Regions from separate parts of the Homo sapiens genome. Here region 2 is reported to be linked to region 1. The links are microRNA targets in miRTarBase. Many come from high-throughput screens and were not tested one by one. Region 1 holds a microRNA gene; the other region holds the end of a gene's coding sequence.
What was found. Region 1 holds the annotated microRNA hsa-miR-4645-5p (ACCAGGCAAGAAAUAUUGU, at 1,386-1,404, opposite strand). A microRNA usually pairs through its seed, bases 2 to 8, with sites in the 3' UTR of a target mRNA and lowers its output. Matches are read on the target gene's strand: a 7mer-m8 pairs with bases 2 to 8, a 7mer-A1 pairs with bases 2 to 7 and ends in A, and an 8mer does both.

Region 2: the mRNA of CTDNEP1 is a reported target of hsa-miR-4645-5p. Seed matches in the 3' UTR shown: 7mer-m8 at 909-915.

What each region holds. Positions count from the first base shown.
Region 1 is chr6:2,852,694-2,856,093 of GRCh38, forward strand. It overlaps MIR4645 (microRNA 4645), which reads right to left and starts at 1,414; the gene lies at 1,338-1,414. It also overlaps the pseudogene SERPINB9P1. RefSeq lists enhancers at 1,134-1,874, 2,451-2,510, 2,571-2,700.
Region 2 is chr17:7,241,602-7,245,001 of GRCh38, reverse strand. CTDNEP1 (CTD nuclear envelope phosphatase 1) reads left to right here. Exons shown (of 8, transcript NM_001143775.2): 7 at 367-451; 8 at 757-1,411. The coding sequence ends at 817. It overlaps GABARAP (GABA type A receptor-associated protein), which reads left to right and starts at 2,553. Exons shown (of 4, transcript NM_007278.2): 1 at 2,553-2,761; 2 at 3,323-3,400. The coding sequence starts at 2,672. RefSeq lists silencers at 1,791-1,900, 2,491-2,680 and enhancers at 2,293-2,844, 2,845-3,396.

The DNA of each region.
Region 1 (3,400 bases):
TGTATAACACATGTTCACGCAGTGAGGTGCTGATCTTCTGTATGAAGCATGTTCACACAGTGCAGTGCTGACTCTCTGTATGAAGTGTGTTCACACGGTGCATTGCTGACCTTCTGTATGAAGTGTGTTCACACAGTGAGGTGCTGATCTTCTGTATGAAGCATGTTCACACGGTGCAGTACTGACTCTCTGTATGAAGTGTGTTCACACGGTGCGGTGCTGACTCTCTGTATGAAGCGTGTTCACACAGTGCGGTGCTGACTCTCTGTATGAAGCATGTTCACACGGTGCGGTGCTGACTCTCTGTATGAAGTGTGTTCACCTGGTGCAGTACAGGCTCTCTGCATGAAGCATGTTCACACAGTGCGGTGCTGACCCTCTGTATGAAGCGTGTTCACACAGTGCATGTGAAACCAGAACCGACAGTCGAACCCAAGCAGAAGTCTTGACCAAGCACTTCCCTCCTGGGAATGCACCATGATATCACCACACCGAAGTCCAGGCTGGCAAATAGGGACATTTAAGTGACATTTAAGCTCGTGGTGGCCCTATGAGGAGTCATTGCTGACTGAGATGGGATTTTAAGGTGTTGCCTGCCTGTGTGTTCTCAGACCCTCTCCTGAAGCCCCACCCCTTCCCCTGATCCTCTCCTGGGACCCCCCTCCCCTATCCCTGACCCTCTCCTGGAGCCCCCCTCCCCCCTCCCTGTCCCTCTCCTGAAGTCCCCTCCCCTGACCCTGTCCTGGGACCCCCTCGCCTTTCCCTGACCCTCACCTGAAGTCCCCTCCCCTTTCCCTGACCCTCTCCTGGAGCCCCCTCCCCTCTCCCTGTCCCTCTCCTGAAGTCCCCTCCCCTGACCCTCACCTGGGACCCCCCTCCCCTTTCCCTGACCCTCTCCTGGGACCCCCTCCCCTTTCCCTGACCCTCTCCTGGAGCCCCCTCCCCTCTCCCTGTCCCTCTCCTGAAGTCCCCTCCCCTGACCCTCTCCTGGGACCCCCTCCCCTTTACCTGACCCTCTCCTGAAATGCCCTGCCTGCACCATTGTCTTATATTTTTCTCATGGTTAGACTGGGGTTATGGTTTTTTCTGGGAAAGGCCACAGAGGTAAAGTGACATCTCATTGTGTCATATTCAGGGTCCATGCCATCAACATGACTCATCAGTGCTGACGCGGTGATGACCTGGGGGACGCAGTGTTTCTCAGGTTCCCCCACTGAGCCTCTGCAACTCCAGTAGTGACAAACCGCTCCACCCCCCGCCATCCATTTTCTTAATTGTTCAATTGCTAGTATCACATTTCATCAAGAGACGCATAGCAGAGTCCAACCAAGACTCCATGATAGAGAAACCAGGCAAGAACTACTGTCTCGTCGCAACTTGAGGAGACAATATTTCTTGCCTGGTTTCCCTATCATGGAAACTGAGTCCCCCACAGTTTCGTTTCCTCAATCGAGCTAATTACTGAGGTTGCTTAGCAGCCTCCGGAGTGAGCACAGCGGAAACTATCATTAGGGAACTTTGAACGTTTCTGTGAAATGCCAACAGGAAATGTTTCGGCATTTTCAAAATATTTAGAAAATTCCCTGTTCAGTTACAAAAGTGAATCTGAATCTTACCCTGCAGAAGTTAAACTGCTCCCTCTTCTGGATAAAATTACCTTTGTAATTTCTTTTTACAACCTACAGCCTATTGTGCTTGGGTTTCCAAATGGTTTAAAGTTCCCTTGTCCCTTACTTTGTGTCAAGGGGGTGTTTGTGCCTTAAAGGGAAGATCCTGTGCCTTAAAGGAAACCAGAACTGATAGTCGAACCCAAGCAGAAGTCTTGACCAAGCACTTCCCTCCTGGGAGTGCACCATGATATCACCACACCGAAGGCCAGGCTGGCAAACAGGGATGTACACGCAGGGGAGACGAGAACTTCTCCCGTGAGAAACAGCACAGTCCAGCCATATGAACCCACAGCTCAGGAAGTATTGCTCACTTTTACTGTTCTCTCTTAGGGAAGGGCATTCTCAAAACGTTTCCGCACAAGCAGACCATCCCTTTTATTTTCCCCGTCTGTCTCCTTTCCTTCTGCTTTCAAAATGTCTCAAGAGTATTTACAAGAGTTGAGCAACACAGGCATCTTTATCTGGGGTCTTTATCCACAGAGCAGAGGACAGGAAGTCATCACTACAGAGACGAAGCGATGTATGGTTTGACCCAGTGGAGGACTTTGTTAAGGTGGAGGTGTGAGTGTGGAGTGTAAACGTGGGACATCCAGGGCAGTGGAGGGTAACCACTGGAGAGGAAGTCTGGGGACAGTTTGGGAGCAGCCAAATATAAAATAAGCATTTCTGTTCTAAATCCAAATGAACATTCTACGCTGCTGTCATCTCCAGTATACCTCAGAGATCCTAAAGTTTCCTGAAGTTGTTTGGAAGTCACGGCCGATGTAAAGTGAAAGCGCACACATATCTGTAAGCTCTGAGCTCAGGATTTCACGTGAGGTCCTTTGTTCGGGAGGCAGGGGGGTTCTCCCTGTTGCTGGCTGAGGTCACTGCATTCATAGTGTGACAGGAGACAGCACAATACAGCAAAGCAGCTGGAGGGATTGCCTTGTAGAGTGGAAGACCTTCCGCAGAACAGAACGCTCTCTGTCCTGTTCTGCTGGAGAATGAAAAGGGATGGGTGGCCTGCGTGAAACCTCTTTATGGGGCTTGTGCGTTCTGACACTGTGACCGCCGAGGCCACAGCTGCCTTTGTTTCTTCCTCTCTGACCTCCATGAAGGGCTAGCGCACAAACTTGGACAGGGACGGCTCTATCTCTTGGGTGATATTCTGGAAAAGTCAGTCTTGACTTAGTCAAAGGCATCGGTAATTCCCCAACAGCTGAGAGCAGACTCCATGCTGCGGTTTTCTTGTAACTTGAATCGAGGAGACTTCCACATCTTTGCTATCCATTGCGCCTGGCTTTGTCCACTCGCTGACTTCTTCATATATAAGCTCATTTTCCACCTGGAAGAAAAGAGGAGAGAGCCTTAGGGCCCCAGCATTGGGTCCGCACCGAGGCCTACACTGCTCCCCCCATTCCCACCTAGGACCATGGCATCCCAGTCCTCTCTCCCTGTGGGAGGCTTTCACAGAGGTTCACATGGGCCCAGGCCACTATGATTTTCTGAGTCTCCTTGTTTAATAAAGAAAATGAAGTGCCAAATATTGTGGTATGTTTTAAAATTTTGTATTTAACAAGTGATCTTTCAAAAATGCAATGCAATCTAATTGCGCTATTCCGAAGTTAAGCATAGGATTTAGAAAACATTCTTATGGCATTTCTTTCATGGAACATGAGCTTAACTTTTATCATTAAAGTAATTTCTGTCCGTCTTTTCAGTGTATCTGTCTCTGTGACTCTAAGTAT
Region 2 (3,400 bases), not on the chromosome of region 1:
ATTTTTAGTAGAGAAGGGATCTCATTATGTTGCCCAGGCTGGACTCAAACTCCTGAGCTCAAGTGATCCTCCCACCTCGGCCTCTCAAAGTGTTGGGATAACAGGTGTGAGCCACTGCGCCTGGCCAAGTGTGTTTCAAGTGAGGCACAATGGCAGTAAGCTTGACTAGAAGCATCAATAGGTATGAGATCTGGTGATTAAAACTTAGTTTCGGAGCATAAACCAGGAAAGTTTTACTTAGGTTGTTGACTTCCGGTAGTGGGAGGCATATATTTTTAACAATAATTCCTCCTTCCCTCCAAGAAGAGAAAAACACCGTCTCTCTTGAATTCTGTTTCTTCTCATCTGCATTTTCACCCACCCTAGACAATGCCATCCCCATCAAATCCTGGTTCAGTGACCCCAGCGACACAGCCCTTCTCAACCTGCTCCCAATGCTGGATGCCCTCAGGTAAGGGAAGTGGGCTCTGGACACTTGGATATCTCAAGAAAGGAGGAGGTGGGGGATCCTCAGAGGGAATAAAAAAGGTTTGTCCTGTTTTAACTCTGTTCCCTTAAGAATTTAACATTTGGACCCAGGTCGTCTTACTTCAAAGCTCATCACTTTAGCTAGTAGGCTGTGGGCAAATTGAACCTATCTAATCATGAATATGGTGATAATTTAGGTCCCACATCTCCAGTGATGCTGCCTTACAAGAGTGTTGTGAGGGTATGAACTATAAGGTACTCTACCAATGCAAGTTATTGTCACCCCAGGTTCACCGCTGATGTTCGTTCCGTGCTGAGCCGAAACCTTCACCAACATCGGCTCTGGTGACAGCTGCTCCCCCTCCACCTGAGTTGGGGTGGGGGGGAAAGGGAGGGCGAGCCCTTGGGATGCCGTCTGATGCCCTGTCCAATGTGAGGACTGCCTGGGCAGGGTCTGCCCCTCCCACCCCTCTCTGCCCTGGGAGCCCTACACTCCACTTGGAGTCTGGATGGACACATGGGCCAGGGGCTCTGAAGCAGCCTCACTCTTAACTTCGTGTTCACACTCCATGGAAACCCCAGACTGGGACACAGGCGGAAGCCTAGGAGAGCCGAATCAGTGTTTGTGAAGAGGCAGGACTGGCCAGAGTGACAGACATACGGTGATCCAGGAGGCTCAAAGAGAAGCCAAGTCAGCTTTGTTGTGATTTGATTTTTTTTAAAAAACTCTTGTACAAAACTGATCTAATTCTTCACTCCTGCTCCAAGGGCTGGGCTGTGGGTGGGATACTGGGATTTTGGGCCACTGGATTTTCCCTAAATTTGTCCCCCCTTTACTCTCCCTCTATTTTTCTCTCCTTAGACTCCCTCAGACCTGTAACCAGCTTTGTGTCTTTTTTCCTTTTCTCTCTTTTAAACCATGCATTATAACTTTGAAACCAAAGCGGCCTTAGGTCCTTCTCTGGGGTTTTGGGAAGTGAAGAGAGGGGACTTTGTTCACATGCACCCTGTCCCACAGGCAGAGGGGGAAGAGACTGCTGTTGGACTCAAGGGGCAGGGGGAAAGGTGGCGTTGAGTATAGGGATAGAATAATGCGGACACCAGATGCCTGGGATACAATAATGCTGACACCAGATGCTTTGGCGGGAAGGGCCGAGTGACAGGATGGGCGCGCTGGTGGGGAGTGGAAGGACACCTTCGGAGAAGCAGGCTATGGAAGCACGAAAGGAGAAACCGGCTATGGAAGCACGAAAGGAGAAACCTGGACGGCCAAAGGGCGTAGAGCTGGAGAAACCGGGCTTCGTCCGGGGCACTGACGTGGACAGGTTAAGCGGGCGCTGCCCCCAGGTGGCTGGCGCCCCGACCTCCGCTGTCCGGGAAGGCGTCGGTCCCCCTCCCAGCTGTCGCCCAGCCGGCCCCGCCTCCCCGGCGCCCTCCCAAGCCGGCCCTACTTCGCGCACCCGCCACGTGACGCTCCGCCCTCTTTGAGATCACATGATTTAACTCAAGTCCCGCAGTGTTCCTCCGCGCTGGCGTAGTCCCTACCTTTCCAACCTCCTCTCCAGTCCCTATTGGTCTACTCATTTTGGCACTTAAGCGTTCTGTAGATCTCTCCAAACATCTGTTTTCTTTTTGACTTCTTATTTCTGGAGATCATCTCCGCCACTTGGGTACTACTTTGTTTTGGTGTCAACGGCCGCCTTCAGCGTAGCAACACGGTTCGTGAATAGCTAACCTTGTAATTGTCCCTGCTGTTCCTCTACGTTGTTAACGAAAGGAACTTGGAGAACCAAGTCTCGTATGATGATTACCATCTTTTACTCCTCTTCAGCCCCAGCTTCCTTGAGGGGACGGTTGGGGAATAGGTTTAGAGTAATTTTCGATGAGCAAAAGCCAACCGTCTTTGCTACGTCGCCTGCGTAGCCCACAAATTGATTCCAAAGCGATTACGCTAATGGCGTGAGGGGGCCGGTCAGTTGGTGGTGCTACGCTAGCAGCGTTAGCGCCGCTGAGGTAGTGGCGTATCTTAGCGGGGGGGGCAGTCCCCGATAGTCGGGGGCGGGGTTGGTGAATAGGGAAGTGGCGCAAATTCGTGGATCGCTCCGCTGAATCCGCCCGCGCGTCGCCGCCGTCGTCGCCGCCCCCCGTCCCGGCCCCCCTGGGTTCCCTCAGCCCAGCCCTGTCCAGCCCGGTTCCCGGGAGGATGAAGTTCGTGTACAAAGAAGAGCATCCGTTCGAGAAGCGCCGCTCTGAGGGCGAGAAGATCCGAAAGAAATACCCGGACCGGGTGCCGGTGAGGACAGTAGCCAGGGCCGAGGGCGCGGGACGCTTACGCTGACGCCACAGCCTGGCCTTGGATCGGGACAGGCAGCGCAGGGATCAGGCTGCTGGCTGTGGTGGGGTTGGCAGCGAGCCTGAAACTGCTGTCCTTGGGACCCAGGATGAAAGGAGTGGGGTAGTGGTGGATGTGGGGTTGAGAGGGATGTGGACAGGAGAGAGAAACCTTAGCATTTGAGGCCTTAGAGAGTTTGACAGCCTGAGCTTCAAATGGTCATCCCCCCAGCTAGCTAAGGTTGCGAGATTGAATCACTAGTCGACCCAAACAAGTCACCTCCGTCTGATTAAGATAGTTGTTTATGGTGACGCCCTATTGGGGGATGGATCCTGGATATTTAAATGAGCTCCAGTCAGTGAGGTCAGGATCTCTGGGACTCAGTGCTGCACCGCGTGTACAAAGACAAAGAGATGAATCTGGGGTAGATTTAGGTGCTAGGAATATTGTTTCTTGAGTTCTTGACAGGTGCAGCTTCGGGGCTGCATTCCTTCTGTCTCCTAATTTTCATCTCTTTATCAGGTGATAGTAGAAAAGGCTCCCAAAGCTCGGATAGGAGACCTGGACAAAAAGAAATACCTGGTGCCTTCTGATCTCACA